Regions from separate parts of the Homo sapiens genome. Here regions 1, 2, 4, 5, 6 and 7 are each reported to be linked to region 3. The links are microRNA targets in miRTarBase. Many come from high-throughput screens and were not tested one by one. Region 3 holds a microRNA gene; each other region holds the end of a gene's coding sequence. Distances are between the middles of the regions.

The links. Region 3 holds the annotated microRNA hsa-miR-4738-3p (UGAAACUGGAGCGCCUGGAGGA, at 1,416-1,437, opposite strand). A microRNA usually pairs through its seed, bases 2 to 8, with sites in the 3' UTR of a target mRNA and lowers its output. Matches are read on the target gene's strand: a 7mer-m8 pairs with bases 2 to 8, a 7mer-A1 pairs with bases 2 to 7 and ends in A, and an 8mer does both.
Region 1: the mRNA of NUMB is a reported target of hsa-miR-4738-3p. Seed matches in the 3' UTR shown: 7mer-m8 at 1,325-1,331.
Region 2: miRTarBase lists DUSP16 as a target of hsa-miR-4738-3p. Seed matches in the 3' UTR shown: 7mer-A1 at 1,283-1,289 and 8mer at 128-135.
Region 4: the mRNA of DDN is a reported target of hsa-miR-4738-3p. Seed matches in the 3' UTR shown: 7mer-m8 at 1,969-1,975.
Region 5: miRTarBase lists PIGW as a target of hsa-miR-4738-3p. Seed matches in the 3' UTR shown: 7mer-A1 at 3,643-3,649.
Region 6: the mRNA of PTPRT is a reported target of hsa-miR-4738-3p. The part of its 3' UTR that is shown has no 7-base or 8-base seed match.
Region 7: the mRNA of RNF213 is a reported target of hsa-miR-4738-3p. The part of its 3' UTR that is shown has no 7-base or 8-base seed match.

What each region holds. Positions count from the first base shown.
Region 1 is chr14:73,272,852-73,276,916 of GRCh38, reverse strand. NUMB (NUMB endocytic adaptor protein) reads left to right here. Exons shown (of 13, transcript NM_001005743.2): 13 at 1-1,701. The coding sequence ends at 339. It overlaps PAPLN (papilin, proteoglycan like sulfated glycoprotein), which reads right to left. Exons shown (of 27, transcript NM_001365906.3): 27 at 2,294-4,065. Among named protein-coding and RNA genes, the nearest start is that of PAPLN-AS1, 29 kb to the right of the region's middle. RefSeq lists an enhancer at 1-389.
Region 2 is chr12:12,473,581-12,477,645 of GRCh38, forward strand. DUSP16 (dual specificity phosphatase 16) reads right to left here. Exons shown (of 7, transcript NM_030640.3): 7 at 1-4,065. The coding sequence ends at 3,253. Among named protein-coding and RNA genes, the nearest start is that of DUSP16, 87 kb to the right of the region's middle.
Region 3 is chr17:75,783,115-75,787,179 of GRCh38, forward strand. MIR4738 (microRNA 4738) reads right to left here and starts at 1,493; the gene lies at 1,407-1,493. UNK (unk zinc finger) reads left to right here and starts at 1,692. Exons shown (of 16, transcript NM_001080419.3): 1 at 1,692-1,870. The coding sequence starts at 1,767. RefSeq lists enhancers at 44-223, 1,786-2,364, 1,954-2,353, 2,365-2,942 and a silencer at 1,754-1,893.
Region 4 is chr12:48,993,208-48,997,259 of GRCh38, reverse strand. It overlaps DDN (dendrin), which reads left to right. Exons shown (of 2, transcript NM_015086.2): 2 at 1-2,111. The coding sequence ends at 520. Among named protein-coding and RNA genes, the nearest start is that of DDN-AS1, 3.1 kb to the left of the region's middle. RefSeq lists silencers at 1-293, 1,500-1,794 and an enhancer at 1,500-1,794.
Region 5 is chr17:36,538,309-36,542,373 of GRCh38, reverse strand. It overlaps PIGW (phosphatidylinositol glycan anchor biosynthesis class W), which reads right to left. Exons shown (of 2, transcript NM_001346754.2): 2 at 3,071-4,065. The coding sequence ends at 3,758. It also overlaps a transcript of MYO19 not described here. Among named protein-coding and RNA genes, the nearest start is that of GGNBP2, 4.6 kb to the left of the region's middle.
Region 6 is chr20:42,077,170-42,081,234 of GRCh38, forward strand. PTPRT (protein tyrosine phosphatase receptor type T) reads right to left here. Exons shown (of 31, transcript NM_007050.6): 31 at 1-3,763. The coding sequence ends at 3,710. The region is part of intron 2 of LOC101927182 (a long non-coding RNA gene); the gene reads left to right. Among named protein-coding and RNA genes, the nearest start is that of CHD6, 460 kb to the left of the region's middle.
Region 7 is chr17:80,392,854-80,396,918 of GRCh38, reverse strand. RNF213 (ring finger protein 213) reads right to left here. Exons shown (of 68, transcript NM_001256071.3): 68 at 1-3,574. The coding sequence ends at 3,421. All of the region lies in intron 1 of RNF213-AS1 (RNF213 antisense RNA 1), which reads left to right. Among named protein-coding and RNA genes, the nearest start is that of ENDOV, 20 kb to the left of the region's middle. RefSeq lists an enhancer at 1,149-1,650.

The sequences.
Region 1 (4,065 bases), not on the chromosome of region 3:
GGCACTGCAGGCCACCCTCAGGCTGCCCATCCCCATCAGTCACCCAGCCTGGTCAGGCAGCAGACATTCCCTCACTACGAGGCAAGCAGTGCTACCACCAGTCCCTTCTTTAAGCCTCCTGCTCAGCACCTCAACGGTTCTGCAGCTTTCAATGGTGTAGATGATGGCAGGTTGGCCTCAGCAGACAGGCATACAGAGGTTCCTACAGGCACCTGCCCAGTGGATCCTTTTGAAGCCCAGTGGGCTGCATTAGAAAATAAGTCCAAGCAGCGTACTAATCCCTCCCCTACCAACCCTTTCTCCAGTGACTTACAGAAGACGTTTGAAATTGAACTTTAAGCAATCATTATGGCTATGTATCTTGTCCATACCAGACAGGGAGCAGGGGGTAGCGGTCAAAGGAGCAAAACAGACTTTGTCTCCTGATTAGTACTCTTTTCACTAATCCCAAAGGTCCCAAGGAACAAGTCCAGGCCCAGAGTACTGTGAGGGGTGATTTTGAAAGACATGGGAAAAAGCATTCCTAGAGAAAAGCTGCCTTGCAATTAGGCTAAAGAAGTCAAGGAAATGTTGCTTTCTGTACTCCCTCTTCCCTTACCCCCTTACAAATCTCTGGCAACAGAGAGGCAAAGTATCTGAACAAGAATCTATATTCCAAGCACATTTACTGAAATGTAAAACACAACAGGAAGCAAAGCAATCTCCCTTTGTTTTTCAGGCCATTCACCTGCCTCCTGTCAGTAGTGGCCTGTATTAGAGATCAAGAAGAGTGGTTTGTGCTCAGGCTGGGGAACAGAGAGGCACGCTATGCTGCCAGAATTCCCAGGAGGGCATATCAGCAACTGCCCAGCAGAGCTATATTTTGGGGGAGAAGTTGAGCTTCCATTTTGAGTAACAGAATAAATATTATATATATCAAAAGCCAAAATCTTTATTTTTATGCATTTAGAATATTTTAAATAGTTCTCAGATATTAAGAAGTTGTATGAGTTGTAAGTAATCTTGCCAAAGGTAAAGGGGCTAGTTGTAAGAAATTGTACATAAGATTGATTTATCATTGATGCCTACTGAAATAAAAAGAGGAAAGGCTGGAAGCTGCAGACAGGATCCCTAGCTTGTTTTCTGTCAGTCATTCATTGTAAGTAGCACATTGCAACAACAATCATGCTTATGACCAATACAGTCACTAGGTTGTAGTTTTTTTTAAATAAAGGAAAAGCAGTATTGTCCTGGTTTTAAACCTATGATGGAATTCTAATGTCATTATTTTAATGGAATCAATCGAAATATGCTCTATAGAGAATATATCTTTTATATATTGCTGCAGTTTCCTTATGTTAATCCTTTAACACTAAGGTAACATGACATAATCATACCATAGAAGGGAACACAGGTTACCATATTGGTTTGTAATATGGGTCTTGGTGGGTTTTGTTTTATCCTTTAAATTTTGTTCCCATGAGTTTTGTGGGGATGGGGATTCTGGTTTTATTAGCTTTGTGTGTGTCCTCTTCCCCCAAACCCCCTTTTGGTGAGAACATCCCCTTGACAGTTGCAGCCTCTTGACCTCGGATAACAATAAGAGAGCTCATCTCATTTTTACTTTTGAACGTTGGCCTTACAATCAAATGTAAGTTATATATATTTGTACTGATGAAAATTTATAATCTGCTTTAACAAAAATAAATGTTCATGGTAGAAGCTTTTGCCCATGAAGGGCTGTTCTTTCCCCTTTCCTTTATTAGTAAATGAATTTATTTTTCGTTCTTTTGGTCTTACTCTCCATTCTACTGCTGCTGTAAATCCCTAGTTTAGTGACTAGAAAAATACCCTTAAGATTCATATTTTCATTCATACTTTAATCCTGAGTGTATCTCTAAAGTCAGATTCTTGCTGCTCAAAGTGTGGTCTGTAACAGCAGCATGGACTTCACCTAGGAGCTGGTTAGAAATGCAGAATCTCAGCGGGGTGGGGCAGTGCTTCTCAACCTGGGCTATGCAATAGAATCACCTGAGGATATCTTTTTAAAATCCTAACGCCTGGCCTATATTCCAGACCAATTAAATCAAAATTTTAGTGGGGCAGGGGGACCCCCCAGGTTGTGTTTTTTTTTTTTAAGCTCGCAATATGGTAAAGTTGAGAACCACTGGCCTAGAATGAGTTTTACCTCTAATCTTAGCCCACTATTCTGTGACTGGTTCTATTAGAACTAGTTAGCTGCTAGCTAACCTCAAACTTACCTTCTGATGTGTTTATACCAATAGGCCAAAATCTGGTTTAATTAAACTGGGGATTTCAAAAAAGTGGCCTTTATTTTCCAATTTCTATAGCAAAACCAGCCATAAGTGAACATGGATGCTCTTCAATATTTTTCCAGTATTAAATGAAAAAAGACCTCTGCCCCAGCCCACATTTCCTTTGTTGAATGAGTAGAGAAGACTGAGAAGTATCACTCACCCGTGATGTGGTTTGTCCCTTTTCCAGCCAGTGTGTTGGTAATAAAAGTCACCTTTCAGAGCTTTGGTCCCTGTAATGCCCGTCTTTCCTGTGTCCAGGAATAACCTTTGCTACTAGGCAGTCCTCTGAAAGATTTGTAGAAGGTTAAAGTGGAAAGGGACTTGGAAGCTCATAGAATCCATGCCTCTTCTTTTAGCATCAAGGAATTAGAAGTCCTGAGAGATGAAGAATGTTGTCTTCCAACTCAAACCATTTCTGAAGCCATTTCCCTGTTACTGCATTGCCCACAACCCTTCCCCATTGCTATCCTCATCCTGCTAATGCTGTTTTTAATGACTGACAGTCTGATTTGTCTTTGGCAGCAAACATTTTGCTTCACAGATTCCTACTTAAGGAAGAGAGGGGCTCCTCATTGTCACTGTACAGAGCAGGCTGGTCAGCTTTACACAGGTGTCAGATGAACCGTCACAGCCAGATTTGCATGTTGGCCTCAGGAGGGCTTCAAGGTCCAACATCTCGACGTAAGGAGCGTTTCCAGTTCTTTCATGCTCAGATAACAGTGCTAACTGCAGCTGTTTCATCCCAAATCCCTATTTGAGGTCTTAACATCTATTCCATTTTGCCAACAAGGGTTATGCTGTTAACCCTCTGCACCAGATTTAGAGCTGACTGATGCACTGCCTAGAAGGGTGAGAGAGACTAGAGCAATGAACCATCGCTGATTTTAGCACAGAATACTTCCCTGATACAGCAGGACTTGGCATGCCCTTTAGAAAACAAACAGGTGTTAACTTTGAAATCATTACACATCTCCCTGCCCAGCTTTAAATTAAGTGGAACCCTGACAGCTAGCTTTAAAACACATTGATGGGCTGGGCACAGTGGCTCACACCTCTAATCCCAGCATTTTGGGAGGCCGAGGCGGGCGGATTACCTGAGGTCGGGAGTTCAAGACCAGTCTGACCAACATGGAGAAACCCCGTCTCTACTAAAAATACAAAATTAGCCAGGCATGGTGGCACATACCTGTAATCCCAGCTACTCAGGAGGCTGAGGCTGGAGAAGCGCTTGAACCCAGGAGGTGGAGGTTGCAGTGAGCCAAGATCGCACCATTGTACTCCAGCCTGGGCAAGAAGTGCGAAACTCTGTCTCAAAAAAAAAATAAAAAAAATGCATTGATGGCTGGGCGTGGTGGCTCATGCCTGTAATCCCAGCACTTTGGGAGGCTGAGGCGGGCAGATCATCTGAGGTCAGAAGTTCGAGACCAGCCTGGCCAACATGGTGAAACCCCATCTCAACTAAAAATACAAAAATTACCCAGGCATGGTGATAGGCATCTGTAATCCTAGCTACTCAGAAGGCTGACACAGGAGAATCAAGAACCCAGGAGACGGAGGTTGCAGTGAGCTGAGATCGCGCCATTGCCCTCCAGCCTGGGCAACAAGAGTGAAACTCTGTCTCAAAAAACAAACAAACAAATGCATTTAACTATTCCTGTGTAACAAATTATAAAGGGAAGCTGTAAAGTAAAGGTTTTTCTTATCCAAACAGATTGCTCTTCTTGAAAACAGCAGCCTGTGGTTATGTCAGAGATGCAAACACTGCTGA
Region 2 (4,065 bases), not on the chromosome of region 3:
TCTTTCTTATAAATTTTCTTAAATGTAACTTCAACTCAACCAACTTCAAGGTCACCTGTGATTCTTTCTGTAGTCAATATTCCATCTGTTTGCACTGAAGCTTTATTCCTTCAATGCCTAATTTTTATGAAACTGATGAGACTAAGTTTCTAGTCTCATAAGTCATCAAATCTAGTGTCATGAGCAGAGAGGTTGTTGAGATGTATGTGGCAAGGACAAAGGACAGCTCTTCAACAATTGCCCTTCCTGTTTTTCCTGTAGGAATCGTAACATCATTTACATGTTATATCGAAATGGGCCATGTGTGTGTAGCTGGCCTTTTTTTTCCTACCATGTACTTGTGTGTTCTGGAATCAGTCAGCTAGAAAATATTTACCAAGTGTCTTAGGCTTTTTCACTGTAGTGTGCATTTAACGTACACAGTAAAGAATGAAGGCTGGCACTAAACTGTTAGCTAATCATCCGGTGTTCCATGTGAATGACAGAACACGGAATAAACCTGATGACACCACCACTTTATTTTGAGCTAAATCCTCATTTAAGTGAGAACAGGACAGGTTTCACCACTGCCTCCTTTGGCAACTTGAGTGGTGGTGTTCCCACCGAGTTTATGGCTGCAAAGATAGGTCTTTTCTCGTATTTATGTATAAACAGGTACCAGTTTTGATTTTATTTAATCATTTCATACATTAACATACATGACACATCAAAATGAGAAATGCACAGTTTAACCGTTCAACAGCTGGCCTTACTTCAAAAGAACACTATATTCATATTAAACATTTACAGTCTTTCCATCTAACTTTACACATGTCCTAAATCATTTTCCAGCACTTCTCACATAGAAGTCTAGTTTTGCTCTTTAAAATCACCATCTGTATCACCCCTAGTAGACGCGAGGGTTTCCCCAATTACATGCTGAAGAGAGCCAGCCACCACCCCACCTAAAGACATCCAAGCAGCTCCAGAGCCTGCCTCCGAGGCCACCCCTTCGCCACGGCAGTCTCGATTCCAAGAACTGATTATCTGACACTAGTGAACCAGCACTAAAGGCTGTAGGATGTGACTACATCACAGTTCCAGAAGGAAGGGGGACCATGGCCAAGAGAAGCCCTAAATGACAGAAGCTCATTAAAACCAAGTCCCCCAAACCTCCTGAAACATCGTTAGCAAGGAGCTACTGCTTTCCTTTCTTAAACATGTTTTGGGCATGACCACACTCTGGAAGTGGTGAACTGTTACACATTTGGTGTGTGTGTACATAACATCAAAAACTACTGTGTGAAACTTGAGAATGTCTGATTAAAGATTTCAATGTATATCTAAAAACTAACTCAAATCGTTGACCAGCACTTTCCCAGTATCATAACAATGCGGCTGACCCTCTTCTGCCTTCACTTTACACCCCATCATAGCACATTATTTGTGCACAACTAGTGAGGTCTGTGCGGCTCATCATCCCCATAACCAAGTCGGTCTGTGTTGAGTCATATCATTCTGTGCTGGTTTTAGAAGTCACCATAGGAAACATGAAGTCACATCCTGGTCAAAAAACTGTCCATTTCTCAAAAACAGAGAAAAACCTGAGATACGAGGCAGCAACTAGCGACACTTACAGGAAGGGAAAGAACAATGACAACACCCGCCCAGCCCCACCCCCAAAAAGCTGCTGTTGTGAATTAAGGCTTCAAAAGAGGACCCACATTGTAGCTGATAAAACTCAAGCCAGGAGGATGTTTGAAAGCCAATCTGCACTATCACTTGTTCCAGTGACCTCCTATGTTCAGCTGCCAGGACCGATTCCATACAGTGATTGTAGGTTGAGGACTGAGGACGCCCCTTTGCTCTCGCTCCATTTTGATTTGCTTTTTCCACTGAAGACACGCCGGCCAGCGTTTCCAAAAACAGCTTGGCCATGGCTTTGCACTCTATTCACAACTGATCAAAACTCAATGGTCTTCTCAGCTTTCTCAACCGTTTTATTCTGAATATTCCTTCCTCACTAAAGCCTCTCTCAGCCCTACTAGTAAATGTGAAAGTCTGAGGCAATCATAGAAACATCAGCCCCATCGCATGCCGAGGGGATAAAAGCCACTAAGGAAACAGGTTTCCTGCTTCTCCTCAGCAATTTGTACCTTTCTTAATCTTCCCATAATTTACCTCCCTAGGAAGTTTCCTATAAAATTCTGCCATATTATTACATTTTACCAACTGTATCCATGCAGTGAAGCAGAAAGGGCAAAAACATCTGCTTTGGCTGAGAATTTGAAGGTGCTGCTGCTCTGCTACCAACCCAAATAAATTCACATTTGGCTTGAAACCAAGTTCATCTTTATTTAAAGGATTGACAATCCCATTTTAAACAATTCTTTGATTTACAAAGAGGGAGGTAGACTCGTTAGCCTCCCAACCTTAGCTTAAATCGTGATGTTGCCAGGTTCCTGGTGGTTCAGCTGAATCCTAGACAGTTTCCCTTCTCTTCATAAAGCTGAGAAGAAAAAAAAATTATCTCCATCTAGGCCCACGGGAATTTTGTGCATAGACAGTTTGAATTGGTCTGAAAAGTGTGACTAGCTACCTACCTATTCACAATGCCTAGAAAATGGGCTACCAGATATGGTAGTGGTCAAAGCCCCGACTTTCCTGTCTGAGGTACTGGGTTTGCTCTAAGGTAGACCTTGGCAAGGCCCCTAATGGTCCGTCCAGCAGAGTGATGCTCGTGTCCCTCGGCTGTCAGGTGAGCGTGGGTTTGTGAATCAGCTTTGGATAGGATCATTTCTCTTGGATTTACCACTAGGCTCTGTCCCTAACAGGGTCTACCTACCTGACCCCCAAGCTGGCTCAGTCTCAGCGCTAAGGTGTACTATGGAAGGGTCCGGACAAAGACTAATATTTGAGATCTCTTAGTAGCACAACGTGAAAATGGTAGGGGATTTTGTCCTCCAACACCAAAGACACTTGCTTTTTTAAGAACAAGAGGATGTGTAATTCACTGAATAAAATGGTTTTCCTCCGTCTAGGGGGGATTCTAGCATCTGCCCTTCCATTTTTGTTGAGAGAAGTATTAGCTGATCTCTCAAATGCAGATGTTAAGAGAGTAACAACTGGGTTGATCCACCTGTTGCTTTTACACCATAGCTCCATTTTCCAAAAATATATATGTATGTACATATATATATTTCAGATTTACAGGGAATTTTTTTGTGAACAAGAAAAAAAAATTGTCTATAGAAGTCACAAGTGTCTTTCTTCTCAGGAGACCTCAATGATTTCCATGCTGCCCGAAAAGCTAGACTGACTGCCCACTTTCCCCAGCTCTTCCCGTGACCTGTTCTCTGACATGATGCTCTCTCCAAATTCCATTTGGCAGCTTCTGCGTTTAAACTGCTTTTCAAAGGGGCTCTCTTCATGCCAGCTCCGCCGCGAGTCAGCTCTGTCACTTGGCTTCTGCCGCCTGCGCACAGAATAGACTTGGTCTCCGCAAGTGGGCAGCTGGCTGCAGCTGTAGGCAGAGTAACTGGCACTGCCTCCGTAGATGGCTGAGGCAGAGTAGAAGTGTGAGGACTCTGTGGCAAAATACCAGCTGCTGGTCAGGGAAGGGGTAGAGGTCTGGGGGGCCAAGATATCCGAGTGCCAGCCCTTAAGGCCCAGGCCAGCAGACTTCGTGAGGTGCTGCTGGCTGGTGGAAAGGCCGAAAAGGAAGCTGGTGTGGTAATTGTCCTCCACGCTCCCACTTCGATGCAGTGGAGATAAAAGGGACCTCTGGGCGGTGCCACTGCTGCTGGTTCTGACCGAATGCAATCGCTTGCTCTGGCTGTCTGAAGGCCTGGCGGTCTGCAGCTTCTTGGGGATGCTGGCTTCCTCCTTATCAGGACTGGTTTCGGGAGTCTGCTCCGATAGTTCCTGAACAGGGGAGAACTGGCATAGCTTGTTGGTCCCATCCAGAGTAGTGGAAGGTTTGTAGTATTCCAAAGCATCTTCTGATGAGGAGAAGCCATGTAAGGATGCTGCCATGCTGGCTGAATATGAAACTGATTTGATATCCAGAGAGAAGGAACGCTTGAG
Region 3 (4,065 bases):
ATAAAAAATGTTTATACAATGAAAAAAAGCAGAAGAAAACAAAACAAACAAAACCCAACAGTGAATGTGATGTAGTCTTGTAGGCTACTGTCCTAGTTCCTCTTGTTACCAACTTGCTGAGTAACTTTGTGCAAGTTACTTAGCTTCTCTGGGTTTCGGTTTCCTCTTTTGTAAATTAAGCAGTTTGGATGATATCATCTCCCAACTCCACCAGTACACACTTATTCTGAAGCTCATGATATACATCTATTATTTAAAATCCAGTGCTGTGAACTCTATTTCTTCAGTCAGATCACACTTGAGTATTGTGAGGCTAACATAAACCAAGTAACTTGCGTTTAATCATAGGATTAAAGCAATATACTACAACTTTTATTTGTCCTTTTGTAATTTTTCATTTTCAAACGCCCCTAGTGGCTAAACGATTTAGCCTGTTTAGGAAAAACCAGTTTCTCAACTCTGTGATGTGGCTTCTGATGTGAGGGAACTTGGAGCTAAATAAAATAAGTATGTGTCACTCAAACATTAACGATTTTCCATTAGCCCCACCACCCTTCATCCCTAAGGTTATTTGGAATGTGTTTCTTTAATGAGATAATCATTTGTTAATATAATCCCATCTAAGAAAATATAAATCAAAACCAGTGGATTTGAAATAGATTCAATATGAAAAACCAAATTAAATGACAACGGTTAAAATATCTACGGAGAACATTCTAAAACTCACAGAAACAAATGCCTAGGTCTGGGGCATCTGGCTTATTTTATAAAGTGAAGAACTTTGCTTGACTGGTGGGAAGCAGAGAGGGGAAAGATAATGTCCCAAGTAAAAAGGCTGACGTCCAGACAAGAAAACTAGAGTGGATAAATACGGGCACGCCCTACTCAAACCCAGGCCTTTCCTCTGGACCCTGTGATGCTTCTCAACACTGGCAACTTGTCAGTGTACCTCAGAGACTATTCTAGGCGGAGATTAAATTCGTCCTTGGCCCTTAATGTACTGGAAACAAGTTGGTCAGGCCAGGTGTCAGGCTGAGAAAGCACACAAGTCGTGGAGTTCCAGGTGTCGAGTTTGGCAAAGGTAAATGAAGCGCCTCGGCAAAGGCGCGGGAACTGTAGCGTGCGGTGTACCTCCTCCTTAGCAAAGCTTTCTCAATGCCTCTTAGGTTAGACCCGCCGCAGGGATGAAGGGGTTGCTGGCGGATTGCAGGTGCCTGCAGCACAGGGCCCAGAACTAAGAACCGACAACACAGATTCTTAAGCCCTGCTTGGAGCACTGCTCTGAGCTGGCATTAGAACCGAACCTAGCTGTACTAAGTATAAAGGCAAAGTAGTTATGACACTGTTGGCAGTGAAATTATACTTGGAACTCTTTCGCAGAAATCGCTAGGGCCTCCCTAGCTCTGGGCCCCTTCTCCTCCAGGCGCTCCAGTTTCATGGAAAGGCTTCCCTATGAAACTGAAAACGCGCTGGTAAGAAGGAGAAATGCGACCGGACTGCAATTCCCAGAAGCCGTCGCAGGCCCTCAGCATCCGGGACACTAGCAGCAAGGATCCCTGGGTATTGTGGTCCTGTGCTTTGCCAGCAACCCTCTGCCGACGGTAAAATTCCAGCCGGACATAGAACCACAACTCCCAGCAACCCCTGCTGCCGTGTGGGGGGTCTTCACGTTCTCGTGGCGCGGCGCAGGCGCACTGGGTCCTCGGCGCGGACCGCGCAGACTGAATAATAAAAGGGGAGCGGCGAAGAGGCAGGAAGACAAGACCATGTCGAAGGGCCCCGGGCCCGGCGGCTCCGCAGCTTCCTCGGCGCCCCCGGCCGCTACCGCTCAGGTGCTGCAGGCACAGCCCGAGAAACCGCAGCACTACACGTACGTAGAGCCCCCCCCCCCCCGCCGCGCGCGCACGCCTGACGTCAGCGGCCAGCGTGAGTCACGCGCGCAGGGAGAGCGCGAGGCGGCCTCTTCCTCCCCCCCTTCCTCCTCCGGCCCGGCCCAGACCGGTTCCAACCTGCTGGGGCCGGTCCCAACTGCCTCCAACTGCCACCAACCTCTGGTCGGGCTGTGGGGCGGGAAACTCGGTCCCGGCCGCCGAGTGGGGAAGGCGGGAGCTCGGGATGCAGAGTGCACTCTCCCTAGGCCAGGCCTTCGAGGCCTAACTGTTCCTCAGACCATAAAACCACAGTAGTAGGCTCCTTTGGGGCAGTGAGAAGTCCAAGACACAACCAAGAGGAGTTCCGTGGGGTCCAGCCCCAGAACCCACCTATGAATGATGATTAACGTGAAGTCCTGTCAGGAGATTCCGTGCAGTTTGCGCAGGAAGCCTTTTGTGTCCCTAAGGCTCGTAGGTTGTCCACGAGGGCCACACTTGCTTGAATTCACAGTCGACGTAGATAAACATGCAAAGATGGAAACGTGTCCGTGCGTGCCCATGACCGTTTCCCTCGCGGGCTGTGCGGAGCCTGAGTCTGGGAGCCCGAAGGTGATGGGTTCCAAGTATGTCTGCAGGCTCAGCAGAAATGTAGCATTAGAGGGAGCCCCAAATACTGACACTACAGGAGTCCAGCAGGATGGGAAAACCTCTTCCTGGAAGTCTTGCATCTGTGTGCTTTTAGGTCGCTGTCTTCATTTCCTTCAAGCCACGTTAAGCATTCCCTAGAGTTAGGTGATGTGGGAGAAAGATGAATAAGGGGCGGTTTCTCCTGTTAAGCAAAATGTTGCTTTCCATTTTCCCTGATGCTCTGTGAATGCCTCTCATCCCCATGGGCTCCTGAGTGATGTGCATGTTTAAAAGGATCCCCAGCTGCGAGAGGTTTTGGAACCTGGGGGGTTGAACAGCTCTTAAGTTGTTCAGTGAACGAAGAACAGAATCATCTGTTGGAGTAGAAAGAACTCAAACCAGTCAGGAGGAACTCTTGTTATAGAAGACCTTGGGAAACTGTTCTGGGGTTGGGGAACATTGGTTATAGGAAGTGTATGGTTTCTTTGTGGGATTCTTTGTTGTTGGCTGAAATCATTTAAGCTTCTTGACTACAGTCTGACTCACGTTAACCATTCCTTTTCTGATATGGACATTGCTTTCCTGGTCCTTTCTTACTGGAGATCTTTCGCAGTCTTTCCATTGATTTTGGTGAGATGTTCTTAGCTCAAAGACTACTGATGAGTTGAATGGTGTAGTCTTGATTTTCGAATCTGGAAACTTCACGTAATTGGAACTTCTTTATAATCTCTGGTTGCTCAGATCACTGTTTTTAGCAAAATAAACACATTTTGAGTCACGAGAGTCTTGGCTTCAGCAACTTGTGTTTCTGTGTTGTGTTGTCATTGAGCATACTATGGAATCTGTAATAGAAAGGCTTTCTTATTTTGGAATTGACAGGTGAAACAAGTGAACAGCTGATTAAATGTCAGTATCTGAGTCTTTGTCCTCTTGATGCTCATTTGTTTAAAACCTGTCTTTCCTGCCGGGCGTGGTAGCTCTCACGCCTGTAATCACAGCATTTTGGGAGGCCGAGGCGGATCGCATGAGGTCAGGAGTGAAGAGACCAGCCTGCCCAATATGGCAAAACCCCGTCTCTACTAAAAATACAAAAAATTAGCTGGGTGTGCTGGCGGGCGCCTGTAATCCCAGCTACTCAGGAGGCTGAGGCAGGAGAATCGCTTGAACCCGGGAGGCGGAGGTGGCAGTGAGCCGAGATCGTGCCACTGCACTCCAGCCTGAGCGACAAGAGCAAAACTCCGTCTCAAAAAACAGAAACAAAAACAAAAAAAAAGCCTGCCTTTCCATTCCTTGTGGGTAAGTATAGAGTAATGGGACCTGGCTCTTGAGGTGTCTTAGGAAATCAACAGGAGTAGGTGAAATAGCCAAGCTTGATGGGAGGTTGTAGGTGTTCTTATCTCTTTGTCTGTTCATATGTATGTGTGTTTTTATATTTGTATTTCCAAAAATCAGAGATAGAAATCAGTGGTCTTTCTTGCTAGACTTACTAGCATTCAGAAGCTGTGATGACCTGGAAAACTTCATCCCCTAGTCCTCCTAGGGCTGAGGTGCAGGGAGCATGAGGACA
Region 4 (4,052 bases), not on the chromosome of region 3:
CACACTGGAGGAGCGCACTTTCCGCATCTTGGGGCTCCCGGCCCCCGAAGTAAACCTGCGGGACGCCCCCACGCAGCCAGGTAGCCCAGAGCACCAAGCCTTAGGCCCAGCAGCTTCGGGAGCCCAGGGCAGAGCCGAGGGGTCGGAAGTGGCGGTGGTCCAGCGGCGCGCCGGCCGGGGCTGGGCGCGGACCCCAGGGCCCTACGCCGGGGCCCTGCGAGAAGCCGTGTCCCGTATCCGCCGCCACACAGCCCCTGACTCGGACACGGACGAAGCTGAGGAGCTCAGCGTCCATAGCGGCTCCTCTGATGGAAGCGACACAGAAGCCCCGGGCGCCTCCTGGCGGAATGAGAGGACCCTGCCCGAGGTTGGAAACAGTTCGCCAGAGGAAGATGGGAAGACAGCGGAACTGAGCGACAGTGTCGGGGAGATCCTAGATGTCATAAGCCAAACCGAGGAGGTCCTCTTCGGGGTGAGGGACATCAGAGGGACCCAACAGGGAAATAGGAAGAGGCAGTGAGAGGCCCCTTCTTGTATTTGTGTCCCCAACGCATCCATCCTTGGGTCCACTGGTCCCCATTCTTCCCCACAGACTTCCTTTGCTTCTCTTTTCCTTGTATCTTTACCCATACCTGTTCTCATCCTTGAAATATAAATGAAAGGAAGGGAAGCATATGCCCATTAATGATTTTGTTTCAGGAGAGGTGAGAATGAGCAGATTTAATTAATGTCTGTTATGTTCAGGGCACAAGGGTGAGCTCTTCGCAGGGGCTGATGCACTGGGTGTGGAGCTGAGCAGAGAGGCCTAACCAGGATCAGGCAGGAGGGCAGGGATGGTGGCAGCCATAGGAGGGCAGGGTAGGGTAGGGCCTCTGAGGAGGAGGGAAAAAGTGAAGGAGAGGCTTTGGACCTGGTGACAGAGTGATCAGATGACAGAGGGGTTCTTGGGAGAAGAGGCATAGGTCCAGCAACAACCAACAAAGCAGAAGGAGGGCTCACCTTGGTGTCACAAGTCTTGGATTTCAATCCCAACTCTGCCACTGAGTTGCTGGTTGACTGAGGCCAGTCACTTTCCCTCTCCAGGCCTCCAGGCCTCCTGGTATATAAAATGATGGTATTCTAAGGTCCATCCTTCCGTCTCTGACATTTTGAGATCTTTGGAAAGGACTCTATCTCATCCTCCCCTCGACAAGCCAAGAATGAGAATTGGGAATAAGTGAACAGAGTTTGAGGGTTTCTGGGCGGCCTCCGTGTCACCCAAAGTCATGATCAATTCAGGAGACTGCCCAAGGCTTGCAGAAGAGGTAAGGGAGTGAGGCACTCCTATCCCAGTCTCCCAGGTTTGGTTGAGGGCTCCCCAAGGCAGGGCAAGATAGCGGCCCTGTCACTGACCCTGGCCTGTGGTGGTCTGAGCTGGGGAGGGAAGGACACCAATGAATCAGCTTGGGACCTCTTTAGGCCTTCCCCTTTTCCTCCACCCCGATGCTCCTTAGTGATGCTCTGAGGCGTGGCCACGATCTCCCTCCCAGGTGGTATCGCCCACCTGAAAAAATCCTGAGAATTTCTCCCATCTTGGCCTCTTCCAGAAACCGGCCAGGCAAGGAAAGAGGCCGGTCACCAGAAGCCAGCAGGCGTGGGGTGTGATACTCTCTATAGCCACTACAGGGCGCGCGCAGGTCGCGGATCTCCCCAGTTGCTAATCCCGGCTCTGCCACTCAATCCTATCCCTAGTTCCCGAGCGCGGGTCCCCCGCCTTGCAGTCTCCAGCCGTGCGGGGCCGGGAGCAGGCCTCCGGCCTCCCAGACTTCTAGAGCCCGCCGGGCCCATCTTTGTACTCATCCACCCCAGCCGGCTTGGGACTCAGACACCGAAGTCTTTTTTTTTTTCTCTCCGATCCTTGGACACCTCCTCTGTCTGCCATTTATTAGCCATGTGAACTTGGCCACATCACTTCACCTCCCTGAGCCTCAGTTTCCTCATCTGTCAAATGGGGGTTTATAAACACCTACCTCGCAGGGTTGTTGTGAGGATTTAATGCGATAATGTATGTAAAGCGCCTTGCACACTGCCTGGCACACAGTAGGCGCTCAATAAATCTAAGCTTCCCTTTATCCAGCCTTGGCATCGTCTTCCTTTCACTGACCCTTTCCCCACAGTGGCCCTCCCCCGGGACTCCTCTGCTACTTCCCGCTCTGTGTGAGGGGAGGGGGCTGCTTTCTTCGTTGGGAGCTCCTGGCCCACCTCTTTTCTCCCCCAGCCGGGACTCTCCCTTCCTTGCCCCCAGCCCACCCCTGTCGGCTCTTCCCACTGCCCTGGCGCCCTCCCCCCACCCCCCATTCCGGGCAAGGGCTGAGTCAGCCGGGGTAAATTTAGCTGCCGGCTCCGCGGGCGCGGGGGCTTCTCCCAGACTCAGTCGCCCGGTCCTGCCCCGGCCCCCAGCCCCCGGCCCCCTGCCCGCCTCTGCTCCCACTCCAACCCAGACCCCTCAACTCCAACTCCCGCTCAGCGTTCAGGTCCCCAACCCCGCTCTCAAACCACTTATGGCTTTAGTCTCCAATTATCTCGACCTCACTCCCGCCCGCACCCAGAGGGACTCTGGGCAGAACTCGGAGTGGGGCAGGACCGCCTGCGGTGGGGGGTGGCGACGATCTGACAGGAGCTGGGCCGCTGGCCTTGGTTCAGTGGAGGAAGGTGTCCTCTTTGGGTTTCTGAACCGGAGGGAAGACACTGGTCAGAGCTATCCAGGAAGATTCATCCCAGAGACTTCCAGGAACCCGGACTGCCAGGTTTCAAGTTAGCTCTAGCTGGAGGAGTGTCACCTTGGGCAGAGATCAAAGGTTCCTGAGATCTGCCCTTGAGGTCAGGAATTCCAGACCAGCCTCCAACATGGTGAAACTCTGTCTCTACCAAAAATACAAAAGTTAGCCAGGTGTGGTGGTGTGCACCTATAATTCTAGCTACTCAGGAGGCTGAGGCACAAGAATCGCTGAATTGCTTGAACCTGGGAGGAGGAGGTTGCAGTTAGCCAAGACTGGGCCTCTGCACTCCAGCCTGGGCAACAGAGCCAGACCACATCTCAAAAAAAAACAAACAAATAAAGGTTATTGAGACCTGTCTCCCTTTCACCTACAATTCCATCTACCTACTACCAATTCTAACTATGAGCATGTACTGAGCACCTACTGGGAGCAAGAAACTGTGCTGGATACAGGATAGGGATGAGTAAGGCCTTTCTGACAATGGGGTGAAGGTGAGCAATGTGTTAAGTATTACAAGGAGTCAAACAAGGGAGATCGTATGGATTTTGTGAGATAAGGGAAGGCTCCATGGAGGGGAGGAGATGACCTCAGCGGTAGAATTTGGTGAAGAGGCATTTCAAGTAGAGGGATCAGCCAAAATAGAGGCATGGATGCAGGTAAGCAGGGTATGTTTAGGAAATTGCTCAATGGTCTGATTTGCCTGCAGTTGAGCGTACATTTATGGCAGTTGTAGAAGATAAGGCAAGAGTGAAAATTGAGGCCAGATTGGGGTAAGCCTGGTCCAGCTGAGGAGTATGTGCCTTGGACCTTCAGGCTTGGGAAGAGGCTGGACTTCAGGTGAAGGGGAAAGTTGAGGAAGGGCGGGGTGTGGTGGGTCACACCTGTAATCCCAGCACTTTGGGAGGCTGAGGTGAACAGATCACCTGAGACGGGGACAAGCCTGGCCAACATGGTCCAACCCCACCTCTACTAAAAATACAAAAATTAGCTGGGTGTAGTGGTGCATGCCTGTGATCCCAGCTATTGGGGAGGTCGAGGTACAAGAATCACTTGAACCTGGGAAGCGGAGGTTGCAGCAAGCCGAGATCGCACCACTGCACTCTAGCCTGGGTGACAAAGTGAGACTCTGTCTTAAACAAACAAACAAACAAAAAAAAAAAAACAAAAAAAAAAAGAAAGAAAGTTGAGAAAGACCAGGGCAGTGATGAAAGCATCTGCCTAGATTTTTCTACAACCAAAGGGCTCTAGAGCTCTGGGACTGGTAGAGGAGGTGAGCTGTATGCAACAGTGGAA
Region 5 (4,065 bases), 39 Mb from region 3:
TAAAAATGACAAGCTCATTATATAGGTGCTAATTTTAATTACTTTGACTACTGAACACACGCCAGGTACTAACAAAGAAGGGAGTATTCACCCTGGGGATTTAAATCTGTGAAAAGGTATTAAAACATATATAAAACATAATAAAATGAAATCCCAAAGGTCTCTTTCCATCTGAGCTTACTTTCCCTAATTTGGGTTTGTCTCTTAGGTCCACCGGGCATACTTAGTATCTTTGGACAAATAGGAATTCAATGAAAACGTATTCTTAAAGGCGAAAAAGGTGGATTTGCTAGGTAAGTTGCTGTTTCTCAAGGAGGTAGCCTGGGTGCTATAAATCCAATCCAATCTAATCTAATCTAATACCATACAATATAATACAATCGATACAATAAAATCAATATCCCAAGGAAAACGCTTAGAAAATTATTTCATGGCAAAATAATTTTTCAAAGTTTTCACTGTGCATCTTCCTGGTTTTAGAGTAGGCACTTATTTTTATTTTCACTATTGCTCTATTTTTAGCCATAACCACCAGTACTGCAGCAAATACTTCTTGAGAATTATCCTATGTACTTTAAAATGAAAAGTATCTGCTTTTAGAGAGCAAACCTCTAATTGACGAAATATATAATTGCTACATTAAAAGACAGTTGTCTGTTGCCTATTATTTCATTTTGATATTGGCATTGTGAAATGCAAGTTCAAAGGATTTGAAAGGCCAGGAAAGTAAAGGCAATCAACAGCAGAACACATTTTGCTGGTACCTAATAAAGAACAGTTGGAGGGACGGAGCTGTAATAAATTATCAGCAAACTACCATTCTTTTTCTTAGGTCCAAATGTGTGAGACGCTAGCCACAAAATGCAGGCATAAATGAGATCTATCTGTTCTCCAGGCTACCTAGGTTTAAAAAAAATGAAAAGTACCAAGGTATTCCTTATTATGTCTTAGCTTCATAGACTATATTTAAACTCCTAGGGAGGAACATAAGGTTCTTGTATGATTTATATAAATACATTGGACATTTATGCTCAATAAAAATAAAACTGGTTGTCATCTTCGGCACACAAGAGCTACTGGGGCACGTGTAGTAGACATCCCCAGTTTATAATTGTGTAAAATTAAAATTGGCCGGGTGCGGTGGCTCGCACCTGTAATCCCAGCACTTTGGGAGGCCGAGGCAGGCGGATCACGAGGTCAGGAGATCCAGACCATCTTGGCTAACGGTGAAACCCCGTCTCTAATAAAAATACAAAAAATCAGCCGGGTGTGGTGGCGGGCACCTGTAGTCCCAGCTACTCGGGAGGCAGAGGCAGGAGATCGTGCCACTGCACTCTAGCCTGGGTAACAGAGCAAGACTGCGCCTCAAAAAAAAAAAATTAAAATTATGGGAGTCACTTTCTGAAGGGCATAGATAGGCTGAGGTCCTGGACAGATTATGTTCTTCTTACTCCTCACTTTGTTATCTTTCCCTCTCCTCTGCCCTCAAAAATTGATAGTTGCAAGGAAAATGATAGTTGATTAGAAGACTTTTTGTTGTTTCATTATAATAACCACAGTTTTATGTGGTAAGACAATCTATGGCCACAGAATGTTATTTAAATTACCATAGTGACCTAAACCTGAGGATCTGTGGATTGGGTTTTCTTTTTCATGAGCTGACACTGGGAAGTTCTGTTTTATCTGTCAAAAATAAACACACCTGGTTGGGTGCGGTGGCTCATGCCTATATCCCAGCACTTTGGGAGACCAAGGTGGGCGGATCACTTGAGGACAGGAGTTCGAGACTGGCCTGGCCAACATGGTAAAACCTCATCTCTACTAAAAATACAAAAATTAGCCAGGCGAAGTGGCGTGTGCCTGTAATCCCAGCTCCTCGGGAGGCTGAGGCAGAAGAATTGCTTGAATCTGGGAGGCGGAGGTTGTAGTGAACCAAGACTGTGCCACTGCACTCCAGCCTGGGAGACAGAGCAAGACTCCATCTCAAAAAAAAAAAAAAAAGACAGTAGAATATTAAACGTCATTATAGGCCAGGATCACGACGCCTGTAATCCCAGCACTTTGGGAGGCTGTGATGGGAGGATCACGTGAAGCCAGGAATTTGAGACCAGCCTGGGCAACCCCATCTCTATTTTTTACAGATTTAAATTAAACCTTAATTTAGCCATAGTTTTATTAAATTACACTGGGTACTTGATGACTCTCATCTTTCTTATTGGTTCTCCTTTCCCTTAGCATGGTAGGTGAGGATGCCTGATGTGGCCCCTGCCTGCCTCTCCAGCTCTCTGCCCATGCTCTTCCTTCTTCTGTGTTCAGCCTTCTTTCAATTCCATTATGTGCTTGGTGCCCTCCCAACGTAGGACTTTTGCTGAGGGAGTCATCCATCTATAATGTTCTCTGCCATTTGCCCCCCAGCCCCCAGACACATAAGACTTTATAACTCCTCATCCCACTAATCAGCTCTAGCTCAAAAAAAAAAAAAAATCTGTGGGGAAAACTTGACTCCTTACTAGGTCAGTTCTTGATTTGACACTCTTGACAACCTATGCTTTTTCTTCATAACTTAGCATTTCACAATAGATGTTTAATGTCTGTTTCCTCCACTAGATTGCAAGCTCTGAGGTATCAGGAAATTTGTGCTGTGCTTCTTAAATCCCTAGCATAGGGTAGGCTAAAAGATGAATTAATCCCAAAGCAAAACTTTGTCTCGTAATTATTATGTGTATAAGCTATAATATAACATCCAATTCAGTCTATTTTTTTTTTTGTAGACAGGGTCTCACTGTTTCCCAGGATGGTCTTGAACTCCTGGGCCCAAGCAATCCTCCCACCTCAGCCTCCCAAAGTGCTAGGATTACAGGCGTGAGTCACCATGCCCAGCCTTCCATCTATTCTTTGGTGCATTTAACTGTCTGACTTCATAGTATATAAGTATTTTATTTTTAAAATTTTTCTTTTTATATCCACCCATCTGCACATTGGAGTGTTTGATTTTAAACACTTGCTTCTTAGTCCTAGGTTTTATTCAAAAATTTAAATTGAGCAATAAACAAGTATTGACAATCCACAGTTCACACTGAAATGTCAACATAAACATTTCATTTTATATTTATTGTAAAAGCAATATACAGTAAAAATACAGAATAGCATAAGGTTACATTAAGATGGAAAGTAAAAATTTTCCTCCCCCCACCCCAACAGTCTTTCAATGTCACAACTATAAAGTTTCTTTAAAATACTACTTAATACATTCTAACAAGTCAAAAGGCTTTGTTTCTTCTTGGTTTTATTGTTGAGATACATTAAAATATTAAGCATTGGCCCAGTGTGGTGGCTCACACCTGTAATCCCAGCACTTTGGGAGGCCAAGGTGGGTGTTATCACTTGAGTTCAGGAGTTTGAGACCAGCCTGGCCAATATGGCAAAACCCCATCTCTACTAAAAATATAAAAATTAGCTGGGCATGGTGGTACATGCCTACAGTGCCAGCTACTCAGGAGGCTGAGGCAGGAGAATTGCTTGAACCCGGGAGGTGGAGGTTGCAGTGAGCTGAGATGGCACCACTACACTCCAGCCTGGGTAACAGAGCAAGACTCTGTCTCAAAAAAAAAAATAATTAAGCATCACTGCTGTTTAGATGACTGAAACTATTTTATAATAAAATATGGTTAACACTGTTGCCAAAAGCACAATTTCTTTACAATTAATATTCCTCATTAAATATTGCCCAAATACTTATATATCCTACTCCTGCTGATCACCAAAATTGTACAGTCTTATCTTGCAAATATAGTACATATACAATTAAACAGTTGGAAAACATATAGAGATTGACCACAAATAAGGCCCACAAGGTACTGCTGTGTAATGTATCTACCATCAGGTTGATCAGGCCAGTTGTTATATTTGACAGCAAGAAAAATATTAACTGTTTTCTGTTTAGAGCTGTGATTAAACAAAGACTGGGTTCCATTCTTTCGGCTTCAGGGACTAGAGATTCTGAATGCTTTTTATTTGTAACAGGTGACTGGATAAGTTTCCAAGAACATGGTACTAGAGCTCCTT
Region 6 (4,065 bases), not on the chromosome of region 3:
CAGGCCACACCCACAGAGAGGGCCAGCACTAAAAGCAAACTGTCCCCTTCCATTCCCACAAAGAGAGGCCTACTGTGGCCTTCTAGAGGCCCAAGGACCCCTGGTTGGCCCAGATTCTTCACCCCAGAAAGGATGCAATGTTGGAGTGCAGCTAAGATACATCCTGAAGCTATTTAGGCCATAAACACAGGTGGAGAAATTTCCTGGGCTTCTCATTACTTCCTTGCATCTTCCCCAAACAGAGCCCACATCTATGAGGTAAGAGCTCCTGTTGTAAAGACTCAGAGAGCATTAATAATATTTTCCTCTGCTCATGACAGGCTGAGCTCACCCTGTAAATGGGGTGGGGTGGGGAGACCCCCTGGGGGTGGTGGTGTTGGCTCCGGAGATTTCCTGGGTAAAGGAAAATGTTCAAATTCCTGGGCACTGGTGCCCCATCTCATCCAAGCCTTGCCACATCCTTGTCCCATGGGATCTTAGGGAAGTCATCCCCATCCATAAGCCTCAATTTCTTCCTGTGTGCACTGGCCTAAGACCTATTCACTGTCCTGCTTTAGAGAATGGTTGGGTTGTGGGAAAATAAGGGGATGAGCTGGGGGAAATCATCACTGGCCCTTGCTGGGTTACCCCAACATGGCCTGAGATTTTTTTTTTTTGCAAGTTTGTTTCTCCCTGAAGTCACACCTTAAATTCCTACCATTTAAAATGATAAAAGCCACTGTCTTTTGTATCTGCCAGCTATTTCACCCCTTCCTGAGCAGAAAAAAATCTTAGGATTTGTGTTAAATAGCTCTCCCTCCACCCTCATCCTGTCTGGATGTACCAAGATCTAAGAAAATAGCATACAGCAGGCAGATTTGCCATGCTACAGGCTCCTTGCAGGCTGGGGAAGGCCAGCTGGGGCATTGGGCTGGAGCCGAGGGAGGCCAGCAGGCCCAGTGGGGGTGGGTCCCCGGGGTCTGCTGAAATACACCTGGGGAGAGGCTCATCAAAGGAAAAGAGCAAGTTCATCGTGGGGTTCCTTTGCTTGCCTTTGCTTTGAGGCACTTCCTTTTGAACCTCTAAAGTGACAGCCCTTCCTTGATCAAGTCTGGTGTCCCTGGACTTCTGGACAGCTCCAGAGCCCATGCCAATGGAAGCAACTTTTGTCGGCTCCTTTCATGTTCCATCCTCATGGGCCTGGAGATCTGGGTTGGTGACCCTGCTCCGTGGTAAAGCAGAGACCCTGGGTTTCTCATAGAATCTGAGTCTCATGATCCATTGCATATTTAGTTCCAGCAACAAAACAATGAGCAGACAGACAAATAGATGTGATATTAAAAAGTGCACGCTTAAGGGAATGTTTTCACAGTGTCTGATGAAAGGAAAAGAGGCAGCCCCATTGGCCCAGAAGGAGTCTTGGCCAACACGAAGCTGAGTGCATCTCTCTAAAGCTCCATGGACTCCTTGTTGCCAATAGGACAAAGTCTGTACTCGCGATGGGCATCTGTCTCCTGGACCCTGGCTCATCTCTTGCTGCTCCCCGTGTTGTGCTGTGCCCGCACTGGGCTGGCCTCCCCCAGACTGCTTCTCCCAATGCCTTTTCACATTTCTTTGCCATTGCACATATGGATCCCTTTGCCTGAGTTTCCTTTTTTTCCTTTTTATGCTTGTTAAGACCCAGCAGGAATGGACGTCCCCTTCTCCAGGAAGCCCGAGGCCGAAGAGACTTTCTTGCTCCTAGGCTCATGGAACACTCATCCACTCCACACTACTGCACCATGGTTCCATTTCCCCAGCATACAGTGGGCTCTTGAGGGCCAAAGCTGTACCTTCTTGAATTCTCTGCCCCTCATGCCCTGTCTGGGGCTAGACCAGCCTTCAAGATGGAGCTTCCTAGGTCCCAGCCCACCTGAGGCTGTCAGATATTGGGCCTAAGCACTGGCTAGAGATCAAGGTCGAGAGTTTCCCTGGCTGGTCCATTCATAGCCTGAAGGAACAGGGAATTGTTTTTACTGACTAAGAAATTAGATGAGACTGGCTTTCCTGGGGAGCTGGGAATGTGTTACTAAAATATATCTGAAATTCTGCGCTTCCCAGAAGAACTGGCATCAGGAAGAAAGTACTAAATTTCCATTTGTGGAGTTATCTGCTCAGAAGTTTCTGGCCTTATTTTCCCTCCATAAAATAATTGCTTGGCTTAGAGAAGATGAAGAAAACAGCACGGAGAAGTCTCATTGCCATTACCTGCCCCTTTGGAACCCAGGATTTCATTACTAAGGAAGGTGCGTGGGTTTCCTCATTGGAGGAGATGATCAAATGGAGATGATAACAAGTCAGTAGCTCTCTCCTGGGGGTTCTAAGGACTGTGTGAAATGTCCTATGGAAAGTGCCAAGCATGATCCCTGGCATACAGTAGAGACTTAGCAAATGTTGGTTCCCTCTCATTGACTCACTCACACTTTGGACAAGACCCTAGATCTCCAGGCCTGATTCTCTTGGCCTATTTTAAATCAAAGTATAATGGGCTCCACAATGGCCTTTTTCAAGGTGGCTGCTGGGTTTCTTTAGGAAGGAGTTCAAATTTGGACATCCAAATTATGCACAAAGCTGGTGCTCTATTTGCCCCAGAAACCAAAGGGACCATCTTCAGGCTCACCCATCTCTCCTTGCTCAGTGGCATGCTGTCCCAGGGTGGGAGCTTTTAAGGACATTGCCAGGAAAAAATAAAAGGCCCGAGAGATTTGTCTTAGAGGTACATACTCAAACTCCCCCGCCCCCTTCTTTTTGACATAAGAGACTAAGATTTTACACCCTCCAAAAGAAAGTTTCTTTTCACATACACTTTGGAAAATAATCAAATCTTATCTTGTTTGTCTCTTCCAAAGAAAGCTACCACCAAAGAAACACAGGGGTTACATCCTACAGGTCAGCCCAAGCCCTGCCCCAGGGAGGTGGTCCCTTTTTACAAAGACAAGGAGGAGCAGAGAAGTTCCCTGCAGTTCCACCCCCTCCCACTGACCACACAAAAAAGCAAAGAACACCTTTATCAAAAACTGCTGTGGACACAGCTGGCCGGCCAGTGAATGCTGGACGGTCAAGGCCCAGGCTGGGGAAGGGGTACAGAATGGTTGTGGGCGAAGCCCCATGCAGGTTAGGTGTGAGGATGGGGGGCCTCTCTTGTGGCCTAGGGAACATCGTAAGGTCACACTGGTCCAGACTGCAAATGTCTGGTGCCAGAGGCCCCTGAAGGAGGTTGCAGGGGGCAGCAGAGCAGTGACCCCCAAGAGCCTCAATCTTTTCCATGACGTAGAGGAGCAGAACACACATCTCCTCCACTCCTAAGGAGAAGGAGGGCAGGGGAGCCTCCCACTCCCCAGCACCTGCACAGTTGGCTTGCCAAGAGATCCACAAACTCAGAACAAAAGCAGGTGGTCTGGGAGCCAGAAATCCAAGGCCTTGCTTGTGGGTGTACTTCTGCTTGGGCCCTTGGCTGTGGCTGGTTAGGTTGAAAAGGAAGCCTGGGCCTTTTGGAGCAGCATCTCCCACGGCAACAGGAGACCCCTCAGAAGGTGCAGAGCCCCCCGTGGAACACAGGGCCACCAGTCTTCTCCTTGGAGTCAGGCAGGGTGCCACCTCAGAGCTCCTGAGCCCAGTTACTGCCATTCACACAAAAGGGGGCTTGGTCACAGCAGCCTCTGGACTCCGGCAGGTTCCCCATCCCATTGAGCTAAAAGGAGCTTAAATATTCCAGTGCCACCTCGTATACAAATTTATACTGTTCCTGAGAGGCGGAGAGGAGCAGAGGCAGAGAGGGAGAAGAGGAGACGAGAGAGATGAAAAAGGAAAGGGAAAATGCATTTAGTTTAGAGATACAGATTTTGGAGAAAACTTTTTCTATATCCATATTATGTCAACTCAAAATTACCCATATCTGGACATCCTTCAAAATTCTGCTTGATGCCTGCTTCTACCCAAGCTTCCTCGAATGCCCAGCTGGCATCATTCCCTTTCTTTTTTACTGTTTTGTACAACAGGGCTTCTCAAACTGTAACGTGCATACAAGGCAGCCAGAAATCTTTTTAA
Region 7 (4,065 bases), 4.6 Mb from region 3:
CAGCCTGGTGGAGCACTTGCTGGACCCAGGGCCCCTCCAGTCTCTCCTGCTTCCCCCTGCTTTGGCCCCAGGTTGCTTTCGCATACACCCCCACCTCCTCAAAAGGGCTATCCCCAGCATATCCTGCAGAGAGGGTGATTAGGTGTGACTTCTGACCAAAGTTGCTCTGGTTGGGGGGGGGGGGTGGGGGGGAAATGCACTTTCCTGGCGCTTGTTTTTCCAGCTGGAAACGGGATTCGTAATGGTAATGGTTGAACTTAATGAACGTGATAGGATGAGAATAATGCAGAATGCAATATAAATGCTAATCATGGCTTGGATTGTTACTCAGCTCGAGGCTCAGGTTTTCTCCAGCCACCTCCCCAGTTATGCAACCTTCACACTTTATGTATCAAATCAGAGGTGTTTTCCTTCAGCACACTAGTGCCTGTGTGCATGGCTAGACTTGGGTGGCTTTACCTACTTGGCCCTGAGCTGACATTTTCTTCCCAATATTTATCACTGGAAGTTTGTTTCTAAATTGGAATTGCCTGAACATACAGGAGTAACTGAAATAGCTCAGGGCCGTCTCGGTTAACACATGCACAAAGTCTCATAACTATTCATGAAAGGCAAATAATTTGCACACACAATAAGGTCCTTATTTTATTTTTTTTTGAGACAGGGTCTCACTCTGTCACCCAGGTTGGAGTGCAGTGGTGCAATCATAGCTCACTGCAGCCTCAAACTCCCAGGCTCAAGCAATCCTCATACCTCAGCCTCCCAGGTAGCTGGGATTACAGGTGTGCACACCTAATTTTTTCAGTCAGGTCTCAAAGAGAAGGAGATAATGATCAGTTGTGAAGATTTTCAGGTAAATCACCACCAAGGTAGGGCTGAAAGCAGAAAGAACTCTGCAGCAGGGAACTGTCCAGGGAGGCGGGTATGAGTGGGAGTGAGGATGAATAAAGGGTTGGGAGGGGGAAGGTCAGGGTTGGTGATGAGGCATCCATGGCGGAAACGGGAACTGCAGGGTGAGGTGAGGCTGGCGCAGGGCAGACAAAGTGAGTCTTCCGGTGCAGGCCAGCATGCCTCCTCTTCTTGCTGTGGTTCTAGACCACAGGTTTCTCGCCTGGAAGAACCTTTCCTTTTTGGAAGAGAAAATGCAGTTTTCCCCCTGAAGGGGCATTTTTAGCACTCCAACGTCAGTGGGCTCCTGGAAGGGTTACTGTTTATCTCTTACCCCGCAAGTGGACTCAGGGGTGAAGTTAGTTAGCTCCTACCTGTACCCCGTTAGCTGCAGCCCCGCTGTGTCCAGTGAAGTCATTTCAGGCAGGGCATGGGGGACTCCTTCTGAGGCAGAGGTGTAAGCGTTTCAGTCCCAGATCGGCTACAGGGAGTGGCGCTCAGCTCCACTGTGGAGTCGCCAGGATGCTGTCATTTTGTCCAGAGGAAAAGTCCACCGTCTCACATGTGAAGGCAGAGCCTGTTTTCTGTGTGCACAGTCTGAACACACTACTTCATGGGTGCTTCTAAAGGACATTTCCACAAAGAACACAAACGATTCCCAAAAGCCTAGCTGATGTCTATGTGCCATAAATAGAAGCTCTGCCCCCAGAGAGAAGAGTTCTTTAGCAGCAAAACTCCAGTTTATTAAGACAGGTGTGACAAGTAAAATAAAATTCATTTTTTTTTTTTTTGCCTCTGCTAGGCCAGTATATTTCTGTACAAACAAGATAATGCAAGATTTGACAGTTAAGGCTTTGAAGCACAGCACACAAAATGAAACAATTTAAAACCCCTTCATAAAAATGGGAAAAATTCCCAGGCCAAAGGAAAAAAAAAGCCTTCACAGAAAGAGACTGACACTCGACTCCCCCCCTGCTGAGGTGTGGCCAGTGAGTCTGGGTGTGAGCTGCCACCTGACAGCCAGCTCTGAGGTATCAAAGGAGCTCCGAGTGCAAGTTGAAGACTTCAGCAAGCCAGCCCCCGGCCCCCACACCCGTTCATAGGCAGTCGGAATGCAGATCTCGGTGGCAGGTGGCTCTGCACAGTCCAGAGTGATAAAACAATCACAGATGACTAAATGCCAGGGACTGTGTGAAGTCAGTTACTGCCTGCAGTCTGGGTCACTCTGCCCTTCATCAGACACTGGTGGCACCATGACAGTGAGGAGAACGGAGCACAGTTCCTTCCGTGCCTCCTGCCGGCGCTGCTCAAGGTGTGCATGGCTGAGTCCTGGACAAGCATTTTGTATTTTTGTAGTTCTCACTCCTTAGGCCCAATTTCAAGTTAAGTCGTTAACTCATTTAGAATGAATATTAAGGATACTGCCTCTAACATATCAATAGCTGTGCTGAGCTGTCTAGGAAGAGAAATTAGTCCAGAGAGGTCCTAAGTATCAAAGCAGATTTTGTAAAGAAAAAAGGCAACACGTCAGTGAGAAAAGCAGCACAAGATCCGGGCTCGGGGACTCTTTTCCCTCTTTCCGAAACATAACTGGTTTTGTATGTGCTCTGAGTCCTAGTTTTTATGTCTTGGCTGAGAACCACAGAAAGGACTAGATATTCATACATGCGAGAGCACACTGAGACTGCATGTTTATTTGGCATAATGCTAGAAAAAAGTCCGCAAAGAACTGCCAGAACCAGGCCTGTGACCAAGTTTACAGTCATCTAGTTTCTCTCACAATTTCAAAATGTCAGATCAGAAGAATCTTTGGCGATTAATCCACTCTCCATTTTATGCGTGAGAAAACCAAGGCCCTGATGGTGTCCCTGGTCCAAGTCCAGTGCCTTTCACAATGAGGCTTTTGGCTCTTACCCTCTGAAGTGGGGCAGTGGCTCACTGTGAGGGGAGAGGGTCAGATCTTGTTAGTTTGATCTTAAGGCACTCACAAAATGCCCTGATTTTTCTTGTCTTTGTGAGAAGACAAAAAACAGTCTGGTAGTTTTTCACATCATCGTGGGAACCCAGAAATATATGTACAGTACTCAGAATTTAAGGGAATGGAAGAAAGAAGAAAATGAGATTCTCTTTTGTGAGTACAGAATTAGAAGAAAAAAAAAAAGAGGGGTGGGCAGTGCCAGAGGCGAACGGGCACAGGTCATTACTGCGTGTGTGGCTGAGCTACAAGTCTCCTGGAATGTAAACAATGTTGGTTTATTTCCAATTTCATCTAATCTTCATTGTCATCTCTCAATGAACAGTACTCATAAAATGATGAGAAAGTTTCAGAACATGTATGTACATGGTTCAGAAACAGCTCGGCTTTCAAAAAGCTGTCAGCTCAGGTAGCACGCCTTGGTCTTGAATTCGGTGCTACGCTGACAGCTCTCCTTCTGAATGCAAAGGCACCAGTCCATGATCAAGTCCACGCCGCAGACGAGGAGAGAGGAGTCTTCTCTCCAAAGTCATCCAAAGATAGCTGAGGAAATAATTCTATCTCATTTCTCGATTCCATTTCAGCACAGCAGCTGTTTTCCACACTGAGACACAGCTGGCGAGCAGTATCTCTTCTGGGAACTGAGATGCCATTTCAGGAAGAATTTCACTTTCTTTAGTTTGCATGTAACTTACGAGAGTGTCTCTCAGGCTGAAAAACCAAAGAAGAGAGCATTTAAAACAGTCTCCTCAGCATGGTGGCTCACGTGTGTAAGCCCAGCACTGTGTGGCTCACGTGTGTAAGCCCAGCACTGTGGGAGGCTGAGGTGGGTGGGTCAGTGGAGGTCAGGAGTTCAAGACCAGCCTGGGCAACATGGCGAAACCCTGTCTCTAGCAAAAATACAAAAATTAGCTGGGCACGTGGTGGTGTATGCCTATAGTCCGAAGCTACTCAGGAGGCTGAGGTGGGAGGACCACTTGAGTCCAGGAGGTGGAGGCTACAGCGAGCTGAGATTGCACAACTGCACTCCAGCCTGGGCCACAGTGAGATCCTGTCTCAAAAAAAAAGGCTCCCATATAACATAAGGGGACCAATCAGTCCCCTCATGTTACTTTTTCCCGTTGTCATCAGCAGAACCAAAATGCTCGTTAAGACTTAAAATCCTAGGCCAGGCGCAGTGGCTCACGCCTATAATCCTAGCA